Linked DNA regions of Homo sapiens: regions 2, 3, 4, 5, 6 and 7 are each reported to be linked to region 1. Evidence: microRNA targets listed by miRTarBase, many of them from high-throughput screens and not tested one by one. Region 1 holds a microRNA gene; each other region holds the end of a gene's coding sequence.

Evidence for each region. The annotated mature microRNA hsa-miR-3152-5p reads AUUGCCUCUGUUCUAACACAAG and lies in region 1 at 2,004-2,025, opposite strand. An mRNA with a match to its seed (bases 2 to 7 or 8) in the 3' UTR can be bound and repressed. Matches are read on the target gene's strand: a 7mer-m8 pairs with bases 2 to 8, a 7mer-A1 pairs with bases 2 to 7 and ends in A, and an 8mer does both.
Region 2: the mRNA of MTA3 is a reported target of hsa-miR-3152-5p. Seed matches in the 3' UTR shown: 8mer at 753-760.
Region 3: the mRNA of NUDT18 is a reported target of hsa-miR-3152-5p. Seed matches in the 3' UTR shown: 7mer-m8 at 3,409-3,415.
Region 4: the mRNA of BZW1 is a reported target of hsa-miR-3152-5p. Seed matches in the 3' UTR shown: 7mer-A1 at 1,161-1,167 and 7mer-A1 at 1,952-1,958.
Region 5: miRTarBase lists TUBGCP5 as a target of hsa-miR-3152-5p. Seed matches in the 3' UTR shown: 8mer at 1,028-1,035.
Region 6: miRTarBase lists DMGDH as a target of hsa-miR-3152-5p. The part of its 3' UTR that is shown has no 7-base or 8-base seed match.
Region 7: the mRNA of RSBN1 is a reported target of hsa-miR-3152-5p. Seed matches in the 3' UTR shown: 7mer-A1 at 1,953-1,959.

What each region holds. Positions count from the first base shown.
Region 1 is chr9:18,571,117-18,575,340 of GRCh38, reverse strand. It overlaps MIR3152 (microRNA 3152), which reads right to left and starts at 2,035; the gene lies at 1,962-2,035. It overlaps ADAMTSL1 (ADAMTS like 1), which reads right to left. Exons shown (of 29, transcript NM_001040272.6): 4 at 1,075-1,311.
Region 2 is chr2:42,752,625-42,756,848 of GRCh38, reverse strand. MTA3 (metastasis associated 1 family member 3) reads right to left here. Exons shown (of 17, transcript NM_001330442.2): 17 at 1-3,475. The coding sequence ends at 3,450. Among named protein-coding and RNA genes, the nearest start is that of OXER1, 9.4 kb to the left of the region's middle. RefSeq lists enhancers at 1-234, 235-805.
Region 3 is chr8:22,103,815-22,108,038 of GRCh38, forward strand. NUDT18 (nudix hydrolase 18) reads right to left here. Exons shown (of 3, transcript NM_024815.4): 3 at 3,064-4,081. The coding sequence ends at 3,486. It overlaps FHIP2B (FHF complex subunit HOOK interacting protein 2B), which reads left to right. Exons shown (of 17, transcript NM_022749.7): 17 at 1-1,097. Among named protein-coding and RNA genes, the nearest start is that of NUDT18, 3.5 kb to the right of the region's middle. RefSeq lists a silencer at 483-630, enhancers at 3,405-3,549, 3,946-4,224 and a cis regulatory region at 3,477.
Region 4 is chr2:200,821,779-200,826,002 of GRCh38, forward strand. It overlaps BZW1 (basic leucine zipper and W2 domains 1), which reads left to right. Exons shown (of 12, transcript NM_001207067.2): 12 at 369-4,224. The coding sequence ends at 400. Among named protein-coding and RNA genes, the nearest start is that of BZW1-AS1, 12 kb to the left of the region's middle.
Region 5 is chr15:22,996,327-23,000,550 of GRCh38, reverse strand. It overlaps TUBGCP5 (tubulin gamma complex component 5), which reads left to right. Exons shown (of 23, transcript NM_052903.6): 23 at 685-1,374. The coding sequence ends at 731. Among named protein-coding and RNA genes, the nearest start is that of CYFIP1, 18 kb to the right of the region's middle.
Region 6 is chr5:78,994,533-78,998,756 of GRCh38, reverse strand. DMGDH (dimethylglycine dehydrogenase) reads left to right here. Exons shown (of 16, transcript NM_013391.3): 16 at 460-1,193. The coding sequence ends at 675. Among named protein-coding and RNA genes, the nearest start is that of ARSB, 11 kb to the right of the region's middle. RefSeq lists an enhancer at 1-870.
Region 7 is chr1:113,762,676-113,766,899 of GRCh38, forward strand. RSBN1 (round spermatid basic protein 1) reads right to left here. Exons shown (of 7, transcript NM_018364.5): 7 at 1-3,778. The coding sequence ends at 3,305. Among named protein-coding and RNA genes, the nearest start is that of PHTF1, 5.3 kb to the left of the region's middle.

The DNA of each region.
Region 1 (4,224 bases):
ATGACATCAGTTTCTCTGCCTCATGATTTTAAACTTTAGGAAGGTTGACTATGTTTGTTTCCCTCTTGCATGCATAAAACCTTGCCTGACATCTCACATCTCTTATAGTCATTTACACTACAGTTTTTGCCTTTACATCCAAATATAGATGTAAGTTTTAAAAAAATAAATTTGAAACAACAAATTACTAAAACATATATTTCTCTTACATTCCTAGCCGTGATATTATACATTCTGAAGAGAGAAAATTTCAGCTGACACCATGTTGGAAAAGGCAAATACTCTCAAAATTTTGTGTCTGCTTCATGAAATATAAAAGCATATAGTCAAATACAGCACACAGAAAAACAATAGCAACTGCTTGCTCCAAAAACTAGACTGGTAATCCTAATCCAAAAAGTGGACCTGAAAATAAAGATGGCAAAGACATGACAAACATACAAACCCTTTTTCACCTTACTAATTCCCTACCTAGAGTAGACATTGATGAATGGATGGATACCAGAAATCAAACCTTTTTGTAATCCTGTTTTAAAGATTTAACTGGCTTAAGTCCAACCTAGCTGGCTCTTCCATGACTTTCTCTACAGTGTGTCTGAATTTTCAATACAATGGAAATTATAGTAAAGTAGCAAGTTTTCCTACAGTTTACTTGGGGATTTTAGAATTGGTCTTACCTGATTTATTCTGAAACTGAGTCAATGAAAATCCAGTCTCTAAATACACACACACACACACACACACAAACACAAACACACACTTCAGGAATAGCCAATCCAGGGGATAATTTCAAAGTCTAGTACATAATTGATAAACACTATTCAAAAATTTTTATTCTTTTATATTCAAGTGACACTCAAGGAAAGAAAAATAACTCTAGTCTACTTTTCCTTCGCACAATACAACACTTGGTACTTTTCACTGAAATCATACCTTAATTTTCAAATCTTTCACCATTTACAAACTCTAAAAAGTGTAAAGATGAGTGATTCAGAGAGTGAGACTATGTAAACCATTTACACAAAGACATTGAAACCCTCTGGACAAGTTGAATGAGAACAAATCAGCACTTACTTGGCATAAACCACTGATGCACATATCCAAAGATTCTGTATAGCAACGCGTACCATCTAAGACCTTAGGTGCTAGTTCAACAACCAGGGTTGTTCCTTTGGCTTGGCACTTGAGTGAACATGGGTTGTCAGGGTCATTAGACACAGGAAGCCATTCATAAAACTGGCCATGGTGCTTGACATCATTATGAGCTGAGCATTGCTGAGCTCGGAAATCACCTGCTTCTGGTGGGCAGTCCTGGAGAAAAAAGAGAGAAAGGACATACAAAGGTTAGGAGGATACCCCCAAACATGAAACCAGAGCAGCTATATGGTCTGCTTAGGTCTTAGAAAGCAAAACAAATGTCCTGGTCATGATAGATGGAACTTATAATATCATCTTAGAGGTTATATGATTATTTGGCTTGCAAAATGTAGAAATCTGATAAAGCAATCACCTCAAAATACATTTTCTGATTGAGTTTAAATGGAAAAATAATTGGCTTGAAATAGATATTCTGATTAGGTGGGACATACATTTTTTGAAAGTTGTCTATTGGTTCATGAATTCTTCCACACTGTACTATCATTTTGACTTCCTCATAAGTAGAACCTAGTAAAGTCAGAGGATTAGTTGAAATTATTTGTCTCTTTCAGTTCTGATATTGAGAGCTATGACAATTGTTTATTTGAATAACTAGCAGTAAAAAGTTATAAAAATTTCATTCAAAAAGTTTTTGTGGAGTTGTAATTTTTTGTCTAGGACTTAGGTTGCATAGTATCTAGAATTAAACATGGGGAACAAAAAATATGAAACCATTTATATATGAATTGCTTTGGCTTAAGGCAGCATGGCAGAATGGAAAGAGCATGGACTTCCTCCTTAGATGGGTGGGTGGCTGCAATGCAGTGCAGAGTTATTGCCCCTATTCTAACACAGGGAAGCCTAGTCTTGTGTTAGAACAGAGGCAATAACTCTGCACAGCTCTCAAGGTTGTTGTGAGAAGTTCACGAACTCATGCTGGCCAAATATATGCACAAGGAATATACTGAGTAGATGGTAGCTATTACTATGATTATTTAATGAGGCCACAGAAGGCAAAGGGATGGAGTATGAGGAGATTCTCTCAATTTGAATTGTAAATTATATTGTTAGAGATCAGTGGAAAATAAGAATCTTTTTGATGTAAGTTTCATAAAGGGCAATTTAAAATGTAAAACTATGGCTAACAATGGCCATTATCTAATGAATAATAAATCTCAGTAAAAGCAGGTAAGATTTAATTTTAAAAAGGCAAATATTGCCTATCCCTTGGAAGGGCTTTTTGATAGGTTTATCTTATTCTACAAGCCTTCAGATTAAAATTTACCATGGAAGACTGTCGTCGACTCTCCAGCTGTAGAAAGGCTTTTATTCTAATTTTTTGTTTTAAATAAAGGATTTCCATGTAGCCTTCAGCAGTTCCCTGTTACTACATTATCATTGTGAGAGTTCTCTTATATAAGGTTTCTTTCTCTGAAAAATCTCTTTACCTTTAAATAAGCATTCTAAAACAGCACTGAAAATTTTGACTCTTTTCCAAAACATTAGTGATACTACTAAAGAGCATATAACGCTCTGGTAGTTGAGGGAGCACAAATTCTTTCTAGGCAATGTGGGGTAGAAACAAATATTTATTTAGGATGAACATGAAATTGTTCAAAATACAATATAAAATGTCAAAGACATTTTACTGTTAGTATTATGTGTTCTCAGAGTGAATAAACCATAGTAGCAGAGGAAAAGAATAATGTATATAACATAGGTACAGATACACAGGCACCCAGCAAGGCTTAACATTTTGAATATTGTCTGAAAAGAGTATGAATAAAATTTACCAATTATTAATTTTTTAGATAATAGGATGCAGTTTAAATTTTTTAAGATCCATAAATAAATAAATATGTGTGCTATACAGGCTGTTTACACGTTTATTTTGTAAAATAAAACAAAAACTACCTACAACCAGCAAAACTATATTATGAATTACAACACAGGTAAATTGTGTCAAATCATGACATACAATACAAATTAACTTTATTTTTTTTTTTTTTGACAAGGAGTCTCGCTCTGTCTCCCCGGGTGGAGTGTAGTGGCGTGATCTCGGCTCACTGCAACCTCCGCCTCCTGGGTTCAAGCAGTTCTCCTACCTCAGCCTTCTGAGCAGTTGGGATTACAGGCATGTGCCCCCACACCCAGCTCATTTTTTTATATTTTTAGTAGAGACAGGGTTTTGCCATGTTGGCCAGGCTGGTCTCGAACTCCTGACCTCAGGTGATCCACCTGCCTTGGCCTCTCAAAGTGCTGGGATTATAGGCATGAGCCACCGCAACTGGCCACAAACAACTTTAAATGTTTAACACAAGCTCCTTTCAGACCATATGTTCTAGAGCACAGAGAAACTGATTTAATATTGTCTTAATGAACTCACATTCCAAAGATAAGACTTCCACTTGCCTAATTTACAAATTCTACCAATATCTGCCTAGGCCTCACTTACTAACTTCTGCCCTAAAACAACTCTATAACTAACAACTGCCCCCAAACTCTACACGTAGCCTTCCTTAAATTTCCCCACTTGAGATACGATAGAGTCTCTGTCAAGGTGCTGCTCTCTCCTGCTTAGCATGTTTAATAAACCTACCTTTATATGATCCACAAGTTCCTGGTCATTGAATGGGAGCGTCTAAAGTTGAACTGACAGTTTAGCAATGTTTAAATACAGTATTTTCGTTTGATAGTACCTATCATCCCAGGAGTCACTTGATTACTCAGTACAAGTACAGAAGAAGTAGAGTACATTGTACTGGGGGTACAGTACTTCATTATACTGAAATACAATAAAGCAGAACATTGAGGAAATTGTTTGAAATGGTTCCAAACTCCTCTTAAAATTTCCTTTGCCTCCTTTTTCTATACAAGTGAAACAGTTAGAAGGGTCAGGCTGAATCGCCTCTGCCTTAATGAGCAGAAGATATAATTAAGAGACCTCTTAATATGAACCAGGGAAAATTTTCTGCACGTTTCCAATTCTGATAAAAGTGTCAATTATGTTTTTAAATTGATAATGCAATATCATCTTAGTACAGACATAAAACCTCTACAGAGTCTCCTATGATTCCCCTCTGTTCA
Region 2 (4,224 bases), not on the chromosome of region 1:
CGAATTATCCTGCGGAAACACTCATGAGCACAGGTGCGTGCTCTGGGTTAGCTTCCCTGGCAGGGAAAATCAGAGACATAGTGCAGAGGAACAGGAGGGGTGGACAGAAAACTGGGACATGGCCTTCCTGGGGGGAATGGTGAGGAGGGGCTGCTAACTGAGTAAATTCCCCCAAAGGAAAACAGGGACAACAGTAAAGAATAAAGGCTTCCCCCTCCCTCCCCAAAGCCGTTTCCTCTCTAGGCAGAGTAAAACAGAATCTCCAAACACCCACGGGGCAGCTCCTCCACCTCCCCTCGCCAGGGACTTAGGACAGCAGTGGGGCATAAACACCAGGCTCAGACATGACACCGAGTGCACTGAGGCCACGCACAGCCCCACCTGCTTGCCCTCAGCCCCCTGCTCTGCTCTGAGTGGCAGGGGACTGACCCGGTGGGTCGCCTGTCCCAGGCTCCCAGGGCAGCTGCTTCCAACTGGGTTTCACTACTGTGAGGCACCTGCAGGACTCTGGAGGCCAAGAGGAGGGGAGAGGCTGGGGCCCCCTCTCTCTGCCTGGGGAAATGTTTCTGACAAGAATCATGGCTTCTCGAGGCTCCAGCCCCCACCAGACAGGTCCACAGTGTGGCAGGTCCCCCAGTGGCCTTGGCCCCAGGCTCTGGTGACGCGTCCTCCCCTGGTGCCCAGCCAGTCTCAGGATGGGGGCGGCTTGCTGTTGTTGTTCCCCACCTCTGGGTTGCCCCTCACTCCCCTGTTTTGCCTCTCAGCTTTTCTTGTTTTGTGTTAAACAAATCTCTGGATGAAAACCCCCACTTGAAATCCATTTTCCTGGGTGGGCCCTGAGAGATGGAAACTGGGCTGTGCACAAGGGGAATTGTGAAGGGCAGGCTGAAACCTTCCGGCGACACCCTCCAGTCGGCCCTCCTCTCTTGCGCACCTTTAAGAAGTGAAGGGTGGGCAGGCGATGACTGAGCCAGAGGGGGAGATAGCCTGCAGAGCCTGTGTCCTCACCCCAGGGGCATGTCTGCTGGGGGCTGCGCAGACAGTCTCTGCACGTCCACCCATGTGCTCACTGAACCACAGTGACATGCCACTGACACACAGCAGGGACACCATGGCCCCAGAAAGGGAGCGGGTGGCTGGGAAACCCTCTCAGCACCAAATGCTTCCAACGGCAAAGGCACAGACTAGAGGCGCCTCGGCACCCTTCCTCCATTGCCTGGGGGATTCTGTCAGAACGAGGGGGCAGTTTCCAGAGACAAAGGGAGAGCGTGAAGTCTCAGTCAACATCACCCTCCTAGGATGACTGGACTACAGAACCACGAGCTTTACTTACAAGAGGAAGGAAAAGCCTGCTTGGCACACGTGGCTCGAACAAGCTGCGCTTTTCCCAAAGCCAAATGTCAACTGGGTAGATAGGAGGGGCCTCCCTTCTCCTGCTTCAGACCTGGCCTGACTCCTGTCTCCAAATCTCTTGGGCCTGGGTGAGAGGGCCTCTCCCAAAAGGCAGAGAAAATGAAGCTGGCAGCTGAGTCACGGGCAGCTAATTGTTTCCAGAATCTGCAGTCACCACTTAGTAGGGGTTCAGAGAGAAAGTGAAAGGGTGAGGGAATCATTTCCCCTTCTGGGTCCAAGTACGACAATAAATCCAGAGCAGGGTACAGACAGACAGCTTTCCTGTGTCTTTTTCTTTAGGGAAGAAACATCCACGTGATGCGGCACCTCCTCCCAGGTCTTTGCTGAAGGGACCCCTCAGTGGGAACCCTGAGGAGAACCCCTGCCTGCCACCTCCACCCCTCTCACCAAATGCTTCTGACACAGGCCCCACCCTCAGCGCCCCAAGCCAAGACCCAGCACAGCTCCAAGAGTGGGTGGTGGTGGAGACATCCCATGCTCGCCCTTGCAGAAGCCTAAGATGAGAACCAACTCCTCCTCAGAAAAGAAGCTGAGATGTCTGCAAAACCGCCCTCCACCTCACACAGCACGCTCTCTCTGCCAAGCGGAGCTCAGCCTCCGAGGACACAGACATCTACAGCATCATTATCCTTACCAAGTTACCTCGTGCTTCCCAGGGTGTCAATTCAATTGTAGCCACTCTGTCTTGCAACAGCTTGGCTATTTGGGCCTCTCGTATCTGCCATCCAGCTGCCTCCTAGTAACCCCAGAGATGGCTGGGAGATCAGACTCCAGTTGTCTTTCTTGGGACTGTGACCCTGTGCCTGCAAACAGAGGGCAGGGGAGTTGCCAGCCTCACATCTGCTCAGGGAGCTCATCGGGCGCTGAGCTATTCCTATCCTTGCAGCTGCCAGCACAAGTAGCACAGCTACTCAGCACAGCTGAGTGGCCAACTGTGATGCCACCAAGGGCTCGTGCCGAGGGCAGGTGGGAAACACGAAGAGCCCAAGCCAAAGGAGCAGGCAGGTCCCCCGGGGCCTAGGTCACATGTGCTCACAAGATGTTGGGCTGGAGGGGTGGGGGTCATGGGGTTGGCCACACAGACTCATACCCACAAACACAGTTCTCTCACTCCACACCTCTAGGCCAAACAGAGTCTGTCTGCTTAAAATGAAACTAGGTCATTTGTGACCTGCTGTAGGACCCACCTGGCAGCAGTTCTTCATCAGCTGGTTTGGCTGCAAGGGAACAGGGCAGTAAGCAAACGGCTTGTCACAGTGATACACACGCTTGGCACTTTTAACAACTGCTCTTGCTGGAGCTGTCTGTGACCAAGCAGAGCCGGGCAGAACACCAGTTTCTCTCCAACCACAAAACACAGATGATGAGTTTACAGGCTTATCTTTTGTCAGAACCTCGGTAATTCTGTTCCTTGGAGGAGTAGGAGGGAGGGTCACATATAGGAATGCAGAGGGTAAACAGCAAATTCCCCCATTTCAAAAAAACAAGGATGAAGCCTATCGAGAAAAAGCTGAGTGACGGTAACAGCAAGGACAGGGAAATACCTTGAACCTCATAAACACTGGCGCATTTCTTAAGAAAAATCCATTCAGAAAGATGCCATGGCCCTCCTGTACATATTTAGTAACTATACAGCATAAGACCGAGCTGAGCGGACACATGCAGGGTGGCAGCGGCTCTGAGCTTGCAGCAGCCCCACTGCCAAGTGGCCGCTGTTGCTGGGTGGGGCGCAGGGCGCTGCAGAAGGGAGGAGGTGGAGGGGTTCCCTCAGCCCCTCAATTCTCAGCAGGTCTCGCTCCGTAACAGCGAGGTCTCTGACAAGAAAGCGAGGTGCTGCTGATCCACACGTGGAGACACAGGATTTGGAACGTGCACTCCCACAGTTCCTTCCCCGCCCCATTGCGTCTCCATGGATGCACGCAGAGGTCTCCCACTGAAATGTACTGGGAGTGGGGCTGCCTTCTTCCCAGGCACGGCTGTGAACATCAGCAGGACAGTGCAGCAAGTCTTGGATTGTAGAATGAATCAGGGAAAGCTCAGTCTGACACACAGCACGTGAGTTCTAGAAAAGGGAAGTAACAGTGTGAAGGTTAAACAAGTCCCGATGGTGGAGGCAAGATGAAAGGGAGGATGGACTCACCCCTCCCAACATCACAACCTTCAGGGAAAGGAGGCTCAGCAGTAGGTCAAAGAAAATCTCATGACTAGGCCAGGTGTGGTGGCTCATGCCCATAATCCCAGCACTTTGAGAGGCCAAGGCCGGTGGATGGCTTGAGGCCAGAAGTTCAAGACAGTCTGGACGACATAGCATCACTCTGTCTCTACCAAAATAAAAATAAAAAGTTAGCCAGGTGTGGTGGTGCATGCCTGTAGTCCCAGCTACTTCAGGAGGCTGAGGGGGGAGGACTGCTTGAGCTCACAAAGCCAAGGCTGCAGTGAGCTGTGGTCGCACCACGGCACTCCAGCCCAGGCGACAGAGCAAGACCCTGTCTGAAAAAAAAAAAAAGGGCTCACAATGTAGTTTAACACTGGATCAAAGGGAAAGTTTAATTAGGGCCAATAAAATATATAATTGATACTGAAGGACGGAAAGATCTTAAAAGCTGGGTTTTGAATAGGCGGGTTTAGTGGTCACTGGAGAGGTGCTACAGTACACCAGGCAAGAGAAGAGACTCATGGAACTTTTCTGACGGATACTAAGGAATAGGGAACACAGTTGGCTGGGAGGAGGCACGATCTCATCTGAGCTCATCATAATTAATCATAATGATGTGGGCACCCAGAGGCTATGAACACATTTCTTGTAGGAGG
Region 3 (4,224 bases), not on the chromosome of region 1:
GACTCCAGGCCCCTGAGCCTGGCGGGAAGTGGCTGCGGCCCAGGCAGCCAGTCCTGGTGGTGTTCTCCCTGCATGCCCTCCGTGGCTGGGCTGCCACCCCACCCGGCCCGAATCTGTCTTGACCTGCAGGAATACACGGGCGGCGCCAGGCATTACCTCACAGCGGGACTACACAGTTGCTGGCTTTGCTCCTGGGCAAGGAGGAGCAGGCCAGAGCCTCTTTTGCTTCCTTTTCTTGCCCATGCCGCTTCTAGAAGCCAGGCACAGGTTGCCAAGAGGTGACACGAAACAGGAGGAAACTCAGTGACCTCTGCCTCTCCCACATTCCTCCCCGCGGGGGAGGACCTCGCCGCTCTGAAGAGCACCGTGCACATGTGGGTGCACAAACGTGGGTGTTGGTGTGGACGGGGCGCAGATCTCCGTGGATGAACTGCGTCTGGACTCTTAGATTCATAAAATATTCGAGGGTTTGGGAGTCACAGACCCTCCCCTCTCCTCAGTGCACTTTGGCATTTGCACGGTGTCTTCCCCGGACAGCACAGCAATAAATGGTGTGATTGCGTGGACACCGTGGCTCTGTTCTTGGCCAAGTTTCCCCACCTTCTGCCCAGGACTCCACTGCTAATTCGGGCCCATCTTCCTCCCCAAGGAAGACAAATTCTTTTTCTAGCGCTGCAGCAGGGAGGTGGGGTGGGCGGTAAACAGACAGGCTCTGGCAGTGCAGATCTGCTGATCCTCAGCGCCTGCCAGGAGCCAGACTCTTGGCGGAGCAGTGCCACTTCTGCTGGGCTGACCTGCAGCGGAGAGTCTGCCCACCCCGGAGACACCATGAGGGAATGGACCACGTGGGAGCATCTGTGTGCAAGTCTCATTTGGGTGTGTTTATGCTGCGTGTTGTATGCCTGTTTTAGTCATAAAGTAGGCCTGATATTTAAAACCTTGTCTTTAAGTTCAAGGCTGCAGTGAGCCGATTGCACCACTGCACTCCAGCCTGGGCAATAGAGTAAGACCCTGTCTAAAAAAAAAAAAAAAAAATTTCACAGGTGTGTTCTCAGGGAAAAAGAAAAGTTAACACATAAATAAACCCTTTGTCCTCAGATGTGTGTGGAGGGGTGGGGGATCCTCTGAGGGGGGTCCCCAAGAGACTGCGGGAGGGCAGGCTGAGAACGTGGAGGAAAAGGAGCCAGATGTTGGCTCTCAACTCGTGTTGATCACTGGGTGGCTTTTTAAAATCCCAATGCCCAGTGCCCCATCACCAGTTAAATTATTGTTGCTGGGGGTACACCCAGAGTTCAAGCTCTCCAGGTGGTTGTGCATGGTGGCTCACGCCTATAATCCTAGTACCTTGGGAGGCTGAGGCGGGAGGATCACTTGAGGACAGAAGTTCAAGACCAGCCTTGGCAACATAGTGAGAACCCCATCTCTACTAAAAGCTTAAAAATGCGCCTGTGGTTCCAGCTACTTGGGAGGCTGAGGCAGGAGAATCACTTGTCACTTGAGCCTGGGAGGTCAAGGCTGCAGTGAGCCAGGATCACACCACTCCACTCCAGCCTGGGTGACAGAGCAAGACCCTGTTTGAGGGAAAAAAAAAAAAACCCAGGTGACCCTAACGTGTGCCCAGGGTTGGAAACTACTAGGCTAAATAATGGGGGCAAATAGCCAAATGTCATTGCCCGGCTGACTGGATATGGGCCAGTGGGTCCCTTAGACACTGAGAGAAGTGAACTGAAACAAAGGGGTTTGGTTCCATCATTTGTGAGGTATTTGTCCTCAGAGGGTACAAGGATTCCTACCACCCTCCAGGGCCCAGAAAGGAGGGCAGCCAAGAGAGGCAGGGAGGGGGCTGGGAAAGGGGCCTTGGAGGTCATCTTGGCCCTCAGAAGGGGAGCCTGTGCTAGTGTTTCCTTGCTCAGAATCAGAAATCTCTACCGTAGAACACTTGATATATTTTATTTGTTCATTTCCTTTGATTTTGCTTAAATTTCAGTAAAGTTCTTTTTTTCCTCTTTCTTTTCTTTTTTCTTTTGAGAGAGGGTCTTGCTGTCTCACCCAGACTGGAGTGCAGTGGCCTGAGCATGGCTCACTGCAGCCTCAACCTCCCGGGCTCAAGCCATCCTCCTGCCTCAGCCTCCTGAATAGCTGGGATTTACAGGTGTGCACCACCTTGCCTGGCCTTTTTTTTTTCCTGTAGACACAGGGTCTCACTATGTTGCCCAGGCTGGCTTCAAACTCTGGCCTTCAAGCGATCCTCCTGCCTCAGCCTCCCAAAGCACTGGGGTTAAAGGTGTGAGCCACCGTGCCTGGCCAAAGTTCTTTTTTTTTTTTTTTTTTTTTCAGACGAAGTCTATCACCCAGGCTGGAGCTCGGCTCACTGCAACCTTTGCCTCCGGGGTTCAAGCGATTCTCCTGCCTCAGCCTCCTAAGTATCTGAGATTACAGGCATCTGCCAACATGCCCGGCTAGTTTTTTGTATTTTTAGTAGAGATGGGGTTTTGCCATGTTGGCCAGGCTGGTCTCGAACTCCCTGACCTCAAGTGATCCACCTGTGTCAGCCTACCAAAGTGTTGGGATTACAGGTGTGAGCCACTGTGCCCGGCCACTTAGCAAAAAAAAAAAAAAAAAAAAAAAAAAATCCTACCATGATTCAGCGAGGCTGAGGGGAAATGAAGAAAAGGTTTGGTCTGGCATGGGCTGAAGTTGTGAAAAGGCAGAGGCAGGAGAGCCAGGGGGAGTGGTCTGCGCCAGGGAGGCTCAAGGAGAGAGCAGAGGCAGCACCTGCAGCTCCTGTCCCACTTGAAGTTCCTCTGGGGCCGCCCACTGCCCAACCCTTGGAGGGCTCAGAGCTGTGTTTCATTAGGGATGGGTCCCCTCAGAGTCACATCCCGGGCCAGCAGGCCAACTGGAGGGAGCCCCAGGGGCCGTGCTGGACAGCAGACTGGCCCGCACTGTCAGTGCACTGGGAAAGGCATGGGTGCCTGTGGGTAACACGAGGGGAGCAGCAGCTCCTGGACAGTAGTCCCCATCACTTTCTCCCCACAGAGACGTGTAGGCAGGGAGGCAAGGTGAGTAACACCTCTTTACTCAGCAACGTGCTCCTCCCTCGGGGGACCTTCCCCAGTGCCCCTCCATGCTCGAAGGGCCTGGAAGGATCAGAATGCAGGCCTTTCCCAAGGACGGCACAGAACGTGATGAGGAGATGCCACTGGGGGTGCAGAAAGCTCCCCATCCCCCTGGGAAGAGGCGTCAGCGTGCCCTCAGGGTAGTCAGGTCCTGAGCTTTGGACTCCTCGCTTGGTTAAAGGCACTGTCCCTTGTGCAATCTAGAGGAATGCTCCTCAAAGCATCTCTCCTGGGGACCAGGAGAGCCGCCCCTGCTCCCAATGCAACAAGATCCCTGATCGCCAGCCTCTTGCCTCCCTCAGAGGGAGACAAGTCCGCACTGGAGGGAGCACGGCTGCCTAGCTCCCTGTCACCTCCCCCACCTCTCTATCTGTTCACTGGGACAACAGAGGATCCCTGAAGCCGCTGGAGGAGCTGGCTTTGCAGGTCTTCCTCCATCACCTTCCACCAAGAGAAGTTCTCACCCCGAACTTTTGGGGGTTCATCCTGGATCCCTGGGCTCCGAAAAGCCACGGTCACCAGCACATTCAAACAGATGCCATCACTGTGATCTCGGCCCAGGTGCTGCAGTCCAAGCAACCCCTTGATCTCCACCACCAAGTGGTGCAGGGTCAGACACTCCTGCAGCAGCCGCAGGACGGCCATCTTCATGCCACCCCTCTGCTCCATAGGGTCGAGGCCACAGGCAGTGACAGGCAAGTGAGGCATCCCCACTGTGCCCACTAACACCCACACTGTCTGGGCGCTGGTAAAGGTAGCCACGAGCCGCTGGCAGACCAGATCACAGGGTAGCTCTTGGGGCAGAATGAGAGGGTGCCTGGCTTGCTGGCGATACTGGGCGGCTAGTTCAACCAGGTGCAGGATGTCATGGGCTCGCAGCGGAGTGGGCAGGGAGGTCCGTGGGTACCAGGCAGCCTGCAGGGACTCCGCATCGGCCTCCTTGGAAGTCTTGAGAATTCCACCTGGGGGAGATGTGGGGGATGGGGCAGGGAGGGTCTGTGTGGAGAGAAGTGCAGCTCTGGCAGAGTCAACAGACATCCCTGACCCAGGAGAGAGGCCCCCAGCCCAAAGGCTGGAATCTGCCCATGCCAGGCTGTGCCAGCCA
Region 4 (4,224 bases), not on the chromosome of region 1:
GTTACATGGAGGCTGGGTGTGGTGGCTCACGCCTGTAATCCTAGCACTTTGGGAGGCTGAGGCGATCAGGTCATTTGAGGCCAGGAGTATGAGGCCAGCCTGGACAACATGGGAAACCCAGTCTCTACTAAAAATAAAAAATTAGCCAGTTTTGGTGGTGGGCGCCTGTAGTTCCAGCTACTTGGGAAACTGAAGTGGGAGGATCACTTGAACCCGGGAGGCAGAGGTTGCAGTGAGCCAAGAGGGTGCTGCTGCATTCCGGCCTGTGGGACAGAGGGAGACTCTGTCTTAAAGAAGCTTCAAAGTTATAAATGGGAACTTTTGCCTTCTGATACATAATGTTTGACTGTTTTTTTCCCCTTTTCTAGAATCTGAATCTGAAGCTGAAGAAGGTGACTGAATTTTGAAACTACACCCTCAGTAAAGCAAACAGGAGTTGTAGATAAAATGTCATGTCTCATGTGTCCTGGTTCTTACATCTTCCTACCTCCCTGTATCAAGCATGATATAAGGGCTTTCATGGCAAATTTTATTTTAACTGTTTCTATGGTTGCTGGAAATGTTGGGTTTAGTTTCTAAAACCATGTTTTAAGTAGCTACAGGAGCTATAGATTTGAATCTAATGTTGCATTAGTCTTTTCAGTTATCTTCTACCTCCTGTATTTTCTACTGTAATAATGTAATTTAAGGCCTTCCACAATGAACAGTTCACTTTATTCCCTGGGTTTTCTATAAACAGTTTTAAGGATATGATTTGGTTAAAAAATAATTTGTTATAAAAATTCTGTTTGCAAATTAAACTGGAAAAGTATCCAGAGTCTCAAAAGGCAATGATTTGTGAGATAATATGGCATGCCCGGAGCCCTGCTCATCAATGAAAAACCCATATGTAATAATCGAATTCATTTAACATGAATCTTGAGTACGTGGACCATTGCTTGCATGTTAACTTTTTGTTTTGTTTTGTTTTGTTTTGTTTTGCATTTTTAACTCCAGATATCCTAAAGCTCAATTGTTTGGTCTCTGGTTTTCATCCTTAGAGAAGCCATGGAGAACAGACTTGAAAAGTTTAGGAAATCATAATGTGGCAGAGGTGGTGGGAAGAAGAAAGTTGAGCTTTTTCCCCTTGAGAAACTTCTGCATTTAGTTTCTATCTTTCCAGGCAAAACAAATGGGTATTCTTTTCATACAACCATTTTCAAATGAACCTTAGAAAAGTCTTAACATTTAAGGTATTTTATGCACAGAATACACTTAGATTGATAGGAAAGAACTCGTAATGGAGTTTGAGTAAAGAAAATGACTGATGTACTAAACCCAGTAAAAATTGTTGAAAATGTTAAAGGTCAGCATGTTCTAATTGGGAATCTAGATATAGCTTAGATTTCCTATTGGCTTAGAGTATTTGCTATAACAAATGAAGTGCAATGACAATTATATATTCCTACTCGGTCATACTGGACTGGCTTCGTTCTCTTAATATACTCAGTAATGACTCAAGCCTCTGGCTATTAACATACCCTAGTTGCCGTTTTTTAATTGCCATGAGCCAAATACTTCTTGGTATACAATTGATCCATTTATTTTAATGGCTGCCTTTTCATTTTCATCTTTTCTTGCTGCTACCCATCTATGTATGTAGTCATTGGGGGGAAAATGTAGCCACATTTTTTATGGGAAGACTTTGTGTTAAAAGTGAACATTTTGAAGGTTTTTAACTGGTGAAACTAGCCTGGAATAATGCCACCAGAGACTGAGTGGAAATCGCCCCTTTTGAAGGTGCCATTCTTATGAGCCAAAAGTTTGTCATTTAAAAGTTCATTTTGAGGGAATAACATGTAATATAATTTGAAATAAAGGTATAGTAACCTTAAAAAGAACATTATAACTGATTGTTGTGAATGGGGTGAATTTGTTAAAATGAGTAACTTTGATAAAGTTTTTCATGCACAGGCAAAATGTATTCACTAGATTTCTACGTAGTGATCTGCTTTTACTTTGTAATTTGTAGTTCTCAAAAGACTTTTTTTTAAAAAAATAAAGTCCATACTTACACTTAGGCTTTATACATCAGTCTTTTTTTTTTTAAATTCCATGTTAATACCTAGTGGTATTGTATGTTGTGTGTTCAGATGTCTTTACTGTATCTGTATACCATTAAGTAATAATTAGACTCCCAAACTGTAAACCACCTACACAGAATTCTGGTGTAGCTAAAACTACATTAATATTTCTACAACCAATTCATTGCATGTTTCTTCCATACAAAGTGTGCCATTTTATACTGTGTATAGTGAAAAAGTGTGTCATCTTCCAGAACTACATTATTATCTTTGATCGTAGTTTGTTTCTTCATAATGACACTGTAGTGTTTACTTAGTAGAACATTATAGTAAGTGGATATCACTTGTGACAGTAATAGTGTAAAGAAAGGGAATGCTTTATAAAAAGATTGCAGATTCCATTCCATATAAAAAGATTCCATTCTGAATCTTAAGTGGTAATTTTAGAATTCAGGTGCCAGTGCCAGCCTATGGCCTCAAGTATGTAATTCTTAATATAGATGTTAAATTGTACTTTTAATTATGATTGGATAAATGTTTTTTCTAACTGTCAGTTTCTAAGGCTGTCTCCTTAGAAACTAAATGAGTTTTTAGAGCTGGTTGTAAGTTTCTTAGCCTTACTCTGTGAGTTATAGATGTTATTTCATTCTATATATAGATGTTTATTCCATTCTTATTTAAAAAAAAAAACCTCCATATACCAAAAATGCTACAGGATATTTTGAAATAGCATATTTTAGTTAGGGGAAATGCATGTGACCAAGAGGTTGGACTTCTAATTCAGTTTTTCAAAAGCTTTTTTCCATTATCATACCCCCAGCCTTTTTAGGCTTTTTTTTTTTTTTTTTTGAGACGGAGTCTCGCTCTGTCACCAGGCTGGAGTGCAGTGGCGCGATCTTGGCTCACTGCAAGTTCCGCCTCCCGGGTTCACGCCATTCTCCTGCCTCAGCCTCCCGAGTAGCTGGGACTACAGGCGCCCGCCACCATGCCCGACTAATTTTTTTGTATTTTTAGTAGAGACGAGGTTTCACCGGATTAGCGAGGATGGTCTCAATCTCCTGACCTTGTGATCCACCCGCCTCAGCCTCCCAAAGTGCTGGGATTATGGGCTTGAGCCACCGCGCCCAGCTAGACTTTTTTCTAATAGAGTCCCCCATAAATTTTATTACCATAGATACGCTGTGTATGTACTGTTTCTGTGCTTTGTACATGAAAAGAGTAAAATGTTTTTGTTTTTGTTTTGGAGACAGTCTCACTCTGTTACCTGGGCTGGAGTGCAATGGCATGATCTCAGCTCACTGCAATCTCTGCCTCCTGGGTTCAAGCGATTCTCTTGCTTCAGCCTCCTGAGTAGCTGGGATTACAGGCGGCCACCACCACCCCTGGCTAATTTTTGTATTTTTAGTAGAGGTTTCACCACGTTGATCAGGCTGGTCTCAAACTCCTGACCTCGTGGTCTGCCTGCCTTGGCCTCCCAAAGTGCTGGGATTACAGGCGTGAGCCACCATGCCCAACCAATTTTTTTTTTTTAAATCCTTGGTAGTGATTGACCCCCATTGAGAATGCATGCTCTAATATTTTTTAAAAGGGAAGAAGACCTAGTGATAGACCTTTGCATTGGCAGGCATGTCTTTATGTTTATACAGTGAAGTAGTATTTTTTCTGTCAGGGTCAATAGAAAGTAGACGAAATTCATTTTCAGCCAATCTTTCACCAGTTGTGCTTTGTTCCTTACCCCACCACAGGCAACAGACAAAGCATTTCCTGCTGTCTTTCAAGGTCTTAACAGATTCTTTCTTGATTATAAATGTATTACTAAGTAGAATCATTTGGGTTCTTTCTATAAAAATCAGTGAAAATCCTCTAGATGAATGAATTAAAGTTGTAGGCATAACACTGATAAACCTCTGCTCTCATACTGAAGTAGGCTGCTTGCAGGAACTGACAACTATTGGTTGGCTTTAAATGTAATGTAGATGCCAAAGTTTTAGTGTACAGTGTTACTTAAATTACCAAATTACCTTTGTACAAATATTCCTCAGATGCTGTCTACAGGTGCCATATAAAATAGGTTGATAAGTATTTGCAAATTCTGGTAAATTGCCTTGCTATGATTTTTCATGCTCAGTATTAGTCCTCTAGTATCAATACGAAGTTTTTC
Region 5 (4,224 bases), not on the chromosome of region 1:
AATATTTCTACCTCTGTATTTCCTTGTAACTAAGTGTATGTGTCATTGTTTTGTTACTGATCCCATGAAGAATTAGAAATTCTCACCATTTTCAAAACTGAAAAGTCCCTTAGCAGTTGTCCCATGCTTTGAATTGCTTTTTAAGCATTACGGTGAGGTGAGTGTAAGCCTGAGGATCTTACTTTCTGGTATACCATTTATTACAACAGATTTCTAAAACTCCTATTAAATAAAGTTGATGGCAGAATAGATTTCTGTCACACTTCACTATCGTGTAGTTTTTGTAACTATTTCTTTTCAAAATCTAGTCTTTTTAAAAATTTTTTTAGGAATTTAAAGCTCCTGGCCTGGCGCGGTGGCTCATGCCTCTAATCCCAGCCCTTTGGGAGGTTGAGTGAATCACTTAAGGTCAGGAGTTGGAAGACCAGCCTGGCCTACATGGCAAAACCCTGTCTCTGCTAAAAATACAAAAATGAGCTAGGCATGGTGGCACATGCCTGAAATCCCAGCTACACAGCAGGCTGAGGCAGGAAAATTGCTTGAACCCGGGAGGCAGAGGTTGCAGTGAGCTGAGATTGTACCATTGCACTCCAGCCTGGGTGACAGTGGGACTCCGTCTTCAAAAAAAATTTTTTTTCAACATTTAAACCTATTGTTTTAACCTTATTTTTATTCTTCCCACAGTGGAATCTCTAGCGTTGTCACTCATGGCTGGCATGGAACAAAGTTAAATGTCTTCAGCGTAATAAATATCTCCGACTTTGTCATCATACATGTACATTTCCACCATGTGCAGCTGAAAAGTGAAAATATTTTTATTTTGGTTTATTTGTAAAACTTGTCCACAGTCAGCCTGGCACAGTCGCTCATGCCTCTAATCCCAGCACGATGGGAGGCCAAGACAGGCAGATCACTTGAGCCCAGGAGTTTGAGGCCAGCCTGGGCAACATGGTGAAACCCGGTGTCTACCAAAAATACAAAATGTATCCAGACATGGTGGTGTGTACCTGTAGTCCCAGCTACTCAGGAGGCAAAGATGGGAGGATTACTTGAGCCCAGGAGGTCAAGGCTACAGTGAGCCATGATTGCACTACTGCAGTGCAACCTGGGTGACAGAGTGAGACCCTGACTCAGAAAGAACCACTTGCCCACAGTCCAGACAGATGGATTGTAGGTGGGTTTTCTGGAGATTAGTAGATACTGTATAGAGTTGTATACATAAAATTGTGTCAGTAGTACAAAGTGTATATAGGCTGTTTACTCTTACATTTCCTACTGTAAGATACAGATTTATGGTACTGATACCTTTAAATTATATCATATTTTGAAAATGTAATTACTGATATTCAAAATAAATTAAAGGACTTAAAATCATTTTATTATCCTTTTGCTGCTGTCCTACAGTCACAGAAGCTTTTTATATAGAGTTTTACATGTTGTCTTCCCTAAAAGTTGTCTTAGATGTAGCTGTCCTAGAAATGTTTATATTTTGGCTGGGTGTAGTTTCTCAAGCTTGTAATCCTGGCACTTTGAAAGACTGAGGTGAGAGGATTCCTTGAGGCCAGCAGTTTAAGACCTGCCTAGGCAACATATGAGACCCCATCTCTCCAAAAACAACTTAAAAATTAGCCAAGGGCTGGGCACGGTGGCTCACCCCTGTAATCCCAGCACTTTGGGAGGCCGAGGTGGGCGGATCATCTGAGGTCAGGAGTTCAAGACCAGCCTGGCCAATGTGGTGAAACCCCGTCTCTACTAAAAATACAAAAAAATTAGCCAGGTGTGGTGGCCCACATCTGTAATCCCAGCTACTTGGGAGGCTGAGGCAGGAGAATCACTTGAACCCAGGAGGCAGAGGTTGCGGTGAGCCTAGATTGTACCACTGCACTCCATCCTGGGTGACAGAGCAAGACTCCGAAAAAAAAAAATTAGCCAAGCATGGTGGCACATGCCTGTGGTCCCAGCTACTTGGGAGGCTGAGGTGGGAGGATCGATTGAGACCGGGAGGTCAAGGCTGCAGTGAACCATGATTGCATCACTGCACTCCAGCCTGGACAACAGAGCAAGACCTTGTCTCCAACAAAAAAAAAGAAAGAAAGAAATGTATATATGTTTTGTTGTGCCTGAGAAGTTCTACATGGAAAATAGCTTCAACTGATAGCGATAAATGTAAAAGGCCAACTTCACTTAGGGCCAACTGTTGGTACATACTATTGTTTGGTATTTCCTTGTTTTTTGAAATGTGGAGGCTCACTCTGTTACCTAGGCTGCAGTGCAGTAGCACGATCTCGGCTCACTACAACCTCTGCCTCCTGGATTCAAGTGATTCTCCTGCCTCAGCCTCCCGAGTAGCTGGGATCTCAGGCGTGCACCACCACGCCCAGCTAATTTTTGTATTTTTAGTAGAGACAGGGTTTCACCTTGTTGGCCAGACTGGTGTCGAACTCCTGGCCTCAGGTGATCCACCCGCCTTAGCCTCCCAAAGTGCTGGGATTACAGGCGTGAGCCACTGTGCCTGGCAATATTTCTGAGCAATTTTTGTGAGCTAACCAGTTATATTTTGAATAGAATTATGCTTACTATTAAATTTTTCCATATTTTCTTTTTATAGAGTGAGACTATCTTTAAAAAAAAAAAAGGCCACACATAGTGACTCATGCCTGCAATCCCAGCACTTTGGGAAGCCAAGGTGGGTGGATCATGAGGTCAGGAGTTCGAGACCAGCCTGACCAATGTGGTGAAACCTTGTCTCTACTAAAAATACAAAAATTAGCTGGGCGTGGTGGCACACACCTGTAATCCTAGCTACTCAGGAGGCTGAGGCCAGAGAATTGCTTGAACCTGGGTGGCCGGAGGTTGCAGTGAGCTGAGATCATGCCACTGCACTCCAGCCTGGGCGACAGAGCGAGACTCTGTCTCAGAAAAAAATAAGAAAAAGAAAAAAAATATGAAAGCTAGAACTGGAAACAACAAAATGTGGAAGTTAGGACTAGAAAGCTTCTAGAAGCAAACATGGGAAATTAACACTACAAACTTGGGGTAGACAAAGATTTCTTACATAAAATCAAAAAAGGGGCCGAGCACGGTGGCTCATGCCTGCAGTCCCAGCACTTTGGGAGGTCAAGGTGGGTGGATCACCTGAGGTCAAGAGTTCCAGACCAGCCTGACCAATATGGGGAAACCCCGTCTCTACTAAAAATACAAAAATCAGCCGGGCGTGGTGGCGCACACCTGTAGTCCCAGCTACTCAGGAGGCTGAGACAGGAGAATCGCTTGAACCTGGGAGGCAGAGGTTGCAGTGAGCCGAGATCACACCACTGCACTCCAGCCTGGGTGACAGAGCAAGACTCCGTCTCAAAAGGAAAAAAAAAAAGGAATTATTGGTGAATTGGACATCACCAAAAAACATTGCTAGGAAAATGGTAATACAGGCCACAGACTGGGAGAGAACATTTCCCCTTAGCCCCTTTCAGGAACCATGTCATGCCCAGAGGCAACCACTGTTGCCCAGGGTGTCCAGAAGTAACTATGTTCAGAGTGTATGAAGGCATTTTAAATTAGTAAGACAAGCTTTTTTTTTTTTCATTGATGCAAGGTCTTGCTTTGTTGCCCATGCTGGAGCGCATTGGCACAGTCTTGGCTCACTGAAGCCTCAACCTCCGGGGAGCAAGCACTCCTCCCTCAGCCTCCTGAGTAGCTGAGACTACAGGTATGCACCACCATATGCGGCTAATCTTTTGTGTTTTTTTGGAAGAGTTGGGTTTTCAGCCAGGTGCAGTGGCTCATGCCTATAATCCCAGCACTTTGGAAGGCCTAGGCAGACCGATCACTTGAGGCCAGGAGTTTGAGACCCGCCTGGCCAACATGGTGAAACTCCATCTCTACTAAAAATACAAAAAATAGCTGGGTGTGGTGACAGACACCTGTAGTCCCACCTACTCTGGGAAGGCTGAGGCATGAGAATTGCTTAAACCTGGGAGTTGGAAGTGGCAGTGAGCCAAGATCACACCACAGCCCTTCGGCCTGGGTGACAGAGCAAGACTCTGATTCAAAAATTAAAGAAAATAAAAATTAAAAAGATGAAGTCTTAACTATGTTCCCCGGCTGATGTGAATTCCTGGGCCCAAGTAGTCCTCTGGCCTCAGCCTCCCAAAGTGCTGGGATTACAGGTGTGCGCCATTGCACCCAGCCCAAGACATTTTTTTTAATGAGCACAAAGAGGCAAGG
Region 6 (4,224 bases), not on the chromosome of region 1:
TGCTTCAGCCTTCTGATTAGCTGAGAGTATAGGCGCCCGCCATCATGCCCAGCTAATTTTTGTATTTTTAGTAGAGACGGGGTTTCACCATTTTGGCCAGGCTGTTCTTGAACTCCTGACCTCAAATGATCCGCCTGCCTCAGCCTCCCCAAGTGCTGGGATTACAGGCACGAGCCACCACTCCTGGCCTAAACCAAGTATTACTATTTTAAAAATGAGAAATTTCAGAGTAATACAGATGTGTACCTTGATAATTACTTTTCATAATTTGTAAACTTTCATTCATCTTCTCAAAATGTGAAGTTTTCCTCCTGTGTCTCTGGCGTTGTCCCCCCAGACAGCACTTCATAAAACTTCCATTTTGTAAGTTGAATCTGTATTTTAGTTTTTTTTCACCCAGAGATGAGGAGCACAGAGCTGTGACCAAGATGCTGAGGACTGTTGGGTCTTGTTTTCCAGGTGGTTGGCAACACGACATCTGGAAGCTATAGCTACAGCATCCAGAAGAGTCTGGCTTTCGCATATGTCCCTGTACAACTAAGTGAAGTGGGACAGCAAGTGGAAGTTGAACTATTAGGCAAAAATTACCCAGCAGTCATCATACAAGAACCTTTGGTATTGACCGAACCAACCAGAAACCGGCTTCAGAAAAAAGGTGGAAAGGACAAAACTTGAAAAAAGACCTTCAGCAGTCAACTGAATTAGAGTTGCTAATGACTGTCCTTGAAATTATTATAACTGGCTCCCAGGGGAATAGAGGAAACCAGGAATTCATTTCAAAATCATCAAAGTCTAAATTTAGAATCTTAATGAAACCTTTCTGTTAAGTGTTTTCTAAGCAAGACAGAATAATAGATAAATGATTTACATTGTTCTTTTAAATGAAGAAATTTGAAATGAATGTTTTTTTATTTACCCCACATTACCCAATCAGTAAAACATTTAGGTGTTTGCTAATATACACAATCATTACTATAACCTAATTAAGGGACATTTTATAATTTTAGTAACAAATGCATTCGGTTCTTGACAGCTGAAAACAAATTAATAAATTATCTTTTACATAAAAACATGTACAATATTGTTTATGGATTTACTTCTTTGAGAAATCTTTCCTTAGATGAATAAATGAAAGTTTTAATTTTTCATGATATATCTGTGATGAAAATAGTAAAACTTAACATTGACATATAGCCAACATTTTAATTCAATTCTGTGAAATATTTATCATTTTCTTAATGACTTCCCTGAAAGGAGCTTTATAGGACATTATTATTGTCCTTTCAAAGGTTGTTTTAGAAGAGAAATTGCAAGAAAGAACAGAGTCTTCCAAAGGAAGAGGTACTTGTAAACTTTCAGAAATGAAGCTGACACATAAATAGATTGTGCCAGTATAAACACAGTTTGAATACTGAACACCTCTCTTTGGGAAAGAATTAATGCAAGTTGACATCACATGGTGCTGTTCTGAATATCATTTCACAAAGCATTTGACAAAGCAGGTCAAACAAAAGCTTAAGAGCTGACAGGTTTTCCTTAGCGCTACGTACAGCAAGAAAAAAATCAATTTAGAAATAATTCTTTGATATACTTTTTGAAATTATTTGGGTGTAGTTGATGGAATAAATAAATTTTTTTTGTAAAGGGTGGTTTCTCATTTATAATTAATTTATACATACATACATTTGTTACACATTTATAGAAGTTTTCTTAAGTATTCAAAAAACAGAATGTGAAGCATGATAAGATTCTGTCATTTGAATAAACTTTAAAATGATTTCTTAATGTGTAAGTTTTGAAAAGGTGCCAATTTTACATTTTAAATGTTTTATAACAGTAGTTACATATTAGAACTCTTCACATGTTCATTTCTCTTTGGCATATCCTCTTAGATGAGAAAAGAAGGAAATCCCTTTGGTAACAAACTAATTTCCTAATTATTGGGAATATTATCTAGGTTCTTTAATCCAGTTCATGTTAGTGCTGGGAATTTGGGATATCCGCTTTTTTGACTGGGAATTGGGATATCTGCTTCTCATTCTCTGCCTTTCTATAACCCCATGACTTTAGGATAGTTACATACCATCTCTGGGTTCCTCCTCTGTGAAATAGGTCTAGACTCTTTTTTGGATACTATATTATCAAGAAGCAATAATGAAAGTATAACATTAAATTCATATCATATAGTTAATATAGCGCTAAAACTAATGAATAAAAGAATAGACTATTCAGATGAATGTTAAAGTTTTAAAGAAATCCTACCCACAATATAAAAGACGTCTACTCTGATTTCCTTAAGAAGTTGCCCTCATTCTCTCTTTTGTTGTATGTTAGGTGCTATTAGGTTTTGTAGGTTACCCCAGCACCCCCACTCATACCCAGCCAGTCATCCTGGCCTCAGCACCGGGGTTGGCATCAGCCAATTCATGGGCTGACAATGACCTTCAACACAACTTGGCCATGGAGAATTGAGATGAGTTAACCAGATTTCTTCCATGGGAATTTGGATTGTGAACTATCAGAGGAAAAACTGGTTAGTACTAAAAGCTGAAGCTGAAAAGATGGATAGAAATAGAAGCCATAAAGCCAAGGGGGCAATGAGAGCTCCCAATAAGGAGGGAGACATTGAGAGAGAATGAAAGACCAGTTCCCAAAGCTCTCAGCTCCTGATGGTTTGCTGGCCAGTTCTTGGGTGAGAACCTTAACTTAAAAGGGTCCAACTAAAACCACTAGCTTCTGAAAAGTGGAACATACACAGAGAGAGGCCTCAAAGGAATGGGTCCAGGGAGGCCTCAAAGGAATGGGTCCAGGGTTAGCGTCAGACATGAACAGCAAACAGCCAGCATACTTGAAAACACTCTGGTGATGTGCAGAAGTCCGTATCTACAGCTCAGAAAAACATTCTCAAGAATGTGATGATGAATGATAGGCACTTTCTTCCCTTGAGTGAAGAAAGCTTTTTAGAATTGCAAAAACAGTTTCTAGTTAACACATTACCAAAACATGAATGTGTGGTGTTATGTTGCTAATGTTCACATCCTAACTAATCTGTGTCTTTCTTCTTTTCTACTGATAAGGAAGGATAACAGAAAAAAACATTTTAAAGTATACCATGTGGGACATTAAATAGCAGACAGATGAGATTCTGGAATTTTACTGAGAAGATTTTGTGCATATTTTACTTGAACAAAAGGAAAGGTTGATATTATCAGGAAACACAGCAGTTGTGAAAGGAAGAAAGTTTTGGCTATGCAAACAGCATTCTTTAGCCAAAGTCCCAGGAAAGCAGAGCACCAAATATCAAATTAATTATATCCTTCTTCAGATGAATCTTCATATAAAAAATATAAATTATTGTCCTATTTTTATTTATCCCCCTGCCACTAATGAATTAGAATAGTAGTAGTGTATTTAGTTTGTTTTCTGCTGCTATAACAAAATGCCTGGGTCTGGATAATTTATAAAGGAAAGAGCTTTATTTAGCTCATGGTTCTGGAGGCTGGGAAGTTCAAGACCTGGTGGTTGCATCTGATGAGGGCCTTGTGCTGCTTCATAGCATGGCAGAAAAGCAGAAGAGGTGAGAGGGCATGCTTGTGAGAGAGAAAAGGGGGCTGAAATCCTGCAATAGCTAACCCATTCCTGAGAGAAAGGTAATAATGAGAAAGGCCATGACCTAGATACCTCTTACTAGGCCCCACCTCCCAACACTGCCACACTGAGGAATGAAGTCTCCAACAAATGAAGTTGTGGGGAAAAATTCAAACCATAACATGTATGGAAAGCTGCATTATGAATGATAAAAGGGTAATACATTATTTAATTGTATTTTCTCCAGGAAAAGATTTTGGAAATATTAGCATGCCATGAAGCACAGAGGTGGTGGGGTGGGTGATACAAAAGCTACTGGGCTAAAAAATCACAAGACCTGCTTTTCCCAGGTCTGCCACCAACCAAGCACAGTCTACATAACATCTACTAATGCCTCTCCTGTATTTTAAGTTCTATGAGTAATTGCTTTTCTTAGTATTCATTAGTCTACACATGTTTGTGGAGTACTTACTATAGGCTAGGCACTGAAAGAGCAGTGATAAACAAGACAGACATGGCCCTGCCTTCATGAAGTTTATAGACTAGAGAGATCAAGCATTTAACTAAAAAAAACAGGGAGGTGTTTAATTACAAATCATGATGTCATGAAGGCCAAGGGGAGAGAACATTTTGAGA
Region 7 (4,224 bases), not on the chromosome of region 1:
TTCATGGATTTGGGAGTCTTGTTCCTATATTAGCTTTCATTCTAGACAATTAATATTTATATAGGGAAAGGCAATAAGCAAGTTTTTTCCAGTCATTAAGTGTGACTTTTATGCCTAGTAAGACTGATGCAAGACATCTTTTCCTAAAGTTTAGTAAACAACTTTAATAAGCTCCTTTTTCCCCCTACAAGAGCTTGTAATATTAGTCAACTGGTATTCCAACTGTCTCTTAAGGGGAAAGGGCACTTTTCAAAAGTCTTTCACTAAAAAATAATAAAAGTACCAGTTAAACAAATTCTAAGTACTGAATAAGCAAATTAAAGGTACAATTAAACCTAGGAACCAATTTTTAGAGTTAAAACTTTGGAGGAGAGAACATACTATATAGGTTTTTATTATTATTGCTTTATGAATTTGGGTTACCACTTTGAATCATCATCCTACTCCTAGCATATCTTGGTATAGAGAATTACTTCTGGGGCAAGAGGAAGACTTTTATGCTTTTTAATGAATACCATGAAATTATTCTACTTTACTAAGTTAGGAATATTCATTTATTGGGTCCTTTCCATAAGCACATTTAAAAACCATCCCTCTGCTCCACAAAATATTAAAACTTATAGCCACATTGTGCAAGTAATCTCAAGAGCTGGCACAACGGATAATATACCAAAAAGGAAGATCAGCTTAAATTTCAGTTACAACTTCACTGCCATCACTACTTTAACAAATCAGAAGACGCCAGATTGCTCCATGCCTCACTCCACCAAACCAAATAATTTAATGATTTAGAAAAATTGCAATCATTTGTATCACTAAACTAGGATACAGCTTTGAAAGCAGTAAAAAACGCAAAACTTCTGCTTTTATACTCATCAGTCTTTAAAGCATGCTATTAAAATCTAATACTCACATAGGACATTCAGTTTTCAGATCACGTTACTAGCTAAATGTTTCTCTTCATTCTATTGCAATTCTAACATACAATGAATTTATTAGTACATGATTTTAAACATTTTTATTGTACTCTTTTAATGTGTTTATATTGGAGGTGAGGGTAGAATGTTTTATAAAAGGAAAATGGGGATTTGCTTTTGATTGTAGGTCTTTGCAGATCCGCTGGTTCCTGAGTGATAATACACAGTGCTGGCTGTCAGGAGACAGTCTCCTTGTTTATTAGCAATGACCAGCTTGGATGACAGATGGCATCTGCTGGATGGCAAGTGGGAGATGGGGAAATCGGATCTTGGAAGACAAGAAAAAATTAAAAAAAAAAAATTTTTGCTTTAACAGCCTTCTCTTCATGATTATTTTTAAAAGCAAATGTTGCCTGAGAAGAATTTTACTTTGCACAGCCTGGTAAAGCTCTTCTGGACAGAAAAATAAAAACAAGAAATAACCCAAACCCACACACTTTGTGATTAAACCCCTCCCCAACAAAATAACAAAAAACACCCTCAAAGGCAGGTCCCGTTAAAAACTAGTCTGGATAAACTGGAATTTACCCTAGAATTTATACCCAAGATTTAAAAACACCCCTGCAATAATCACATTACCTTTCATACCATTCTAATTACCTTATTTACAAAGATAACTAAAGCCAACATCACTTCCAATTCATAAATGGTTTACATTGAAATGTATCCCTATTTGTCTTCATCCTTTGTAACAGAGAATACATACATATACATATATATAAGGAATAATACAGATTCTAACTAATCACTGCAGTATTTGCTGATGGTTACTTTTCTATCGGTTTACACAGTGACCTCTATACTTTGCTAATATGCATTTAACTACACAACAATATTGCACAAAGTAATATTTATATAAGATTTAACCTATTTCAGAATATTTTAGAGAAAATTCATATTTGATATTTCAAAAGATGCAGCTAAGTTTTCATGGTGACAGACATAATAAAGCAGCATCTTGTATTTTTTTTTTTTTTTGCCTATGTTAATGTAAATATTTCAAATCTTACCATCCAGGAAAAAAAAAAAATCTCCAAATTGCACTGTAACCAGGGAGATATAAGAATCTGGTCTTAGGTGTGGGGAGTACTCTTCCATTAATAAACAAAAGGCCTACTGTATTATTAACTAAGAGAAAGTATAATGTGAATCATGTTAACATTCTAAAATAACAGAAAGTTAGGACCATACTAGCAATGTGAACTGTGCCTGTTTGAAAAGAAAATTTAAATACTCAGGCACTAAGCATTAGCCTACCTGAAACTCTAGGATGAAGTCTAGTGCTGTATTCTTTCTTAGAAAATAGCAACACAGAGTAATAGTAAATAAACCCAGGTATTCACCAGTTAAAACTGTGAATTGAAGTGTCTCAGTAGTAGATATTTATCATGAAGAGGTTGATGCCAAGTGACAAGAATAGTTTATCATAAGATTGATGCTCAAAATATGGCAGCCTCATCAGAAAGACTATTATTATTCTCTAAGTTTAATAGTTGTGATCAGTTTAGGAAGCAAAATTATCCCCACAAAATGTGAGGATGCCAGGAAGCAGAACAATAGAGTATCATGTCAACATTATCTCTTTTACCCAAAATATCTTCAACAGTTAGCATATATTCTAGAAGAGATTAATGAGCCATGGATAATGAATGACCAAGGACTATTCATCTTTAGATTTTTTTTTTAATTGAAATATCCACTGGGCTTTAAATAACAGATACAAAAAAAAGACAGTTTGGATCAGAAAGTGCTGTGCTTTCTCTTTTGTTAAGAAACCAGAGAGCCACTGAAATTTCCTTGGAAACTACTTGTTATTTGTGGTTAGAACTAAATAACTTACTTGCCCATGTACCAGATGCAGAAATTCTTTCCTGCAACCTATGCCATTTTCACTGTAGAAATTGAACCTGTGCCATAAAGACACAAGTACTAAACCATAAATCTTATTTATCCATAAAAACAGCAAATATGGCAAGAGACAAGGCAAGATAAAATTAAGGGAAGTGAATAATTTACCAAACAAGAATCTGTTATTCCAGAGAATTCTCATTTTGATTTGAAGAAGAGATTGAATTGTTACCTCACACCTTAAAACAGAAAGTAGCAGCAGACCCACTATTACATACTGTACTAACGGGATAAGATACAACTCTTAACTTTGCATAATCTGTGTAAAAAAGATATGCTTGACATTTGTGGAATGTCATTTCTCTTTATAGAATTATAGGCAAGATTTCTCCAATAAAACTTAACTTAAGCCAGTTATAAAACTATAACTTCACATCAAAATTTAAAAAAGTTAAAAAATGTGTTTGAATATGTACATATCACACAGAAGTGGTTGAATGTTCTTGCAGATTGTGTTGCTGGTCAGAGTCCAGTCTACTTTCCACTTTTAAAACTGGAATAGGCTGAGTCTTCTGATCTTGCTGTAGATTAAGTTCTGATGCAGGTGGGAAAGATGATGAAGCAGTTGTTAACAGCTGAATCTCTGTGCATGCTTCTTCAGATTCAGTTTTTATCCTCACACATTGGGAGTCAACTTCTAATTCTCGCTTTCCAGTTAAACCACAGTCCATGTTAGAATTGCTTTCTGTGTTTTGAGTGGCTTCCACAACAGGGTGGTACTGTTTAAGCCTTATATGCCAGGCTAAGCTGCACACCGCCGAAACTGTTTTGAACTGATGAATGACATTTCTAGGGATGAAGTAGATATCATTGTCGCAAAGCTGAATTCTAGCATAACGAATGCCTTCCCGCCTCATTTGGTTTAGTTTAGCTTCATCTACCCACTGTACGCACTGAAGAAAGAAAAAAGTTACGTGAGACTTTAAAATATGTAATAATTTAGTCAAGTGAAATAATTAGCAAAGGAAAACAGTAGAAACAAAATGTGTCATAACAATAATCAAATTAAAATTAAGCAACACTAAATGATAGGTAACTCTCTAAAAATTCTTGTAATGCCTGGGAAATTATTTTCCTCCTATTTTACTACCTCTTTAGTAACAAAGTACAGGTTAAAATCAGAATGGCTTAGAGAATCATTTAAGTATTTCAAAGTACAGCTAAGTATCAATATTCTTTACCACACATAAAGGCAACATGTTTTCTTTTCTTTTAGTGTGTCTTTCAGCCTTTTGCAGTTGAGGGGACACAGTGCAATGGGGTTAACAAGTGAGACAGCTCATGGCCATAACTGAGCCGCCTGGGACCTCTAACCATCCCAGGCCCACCTGGTATCCCA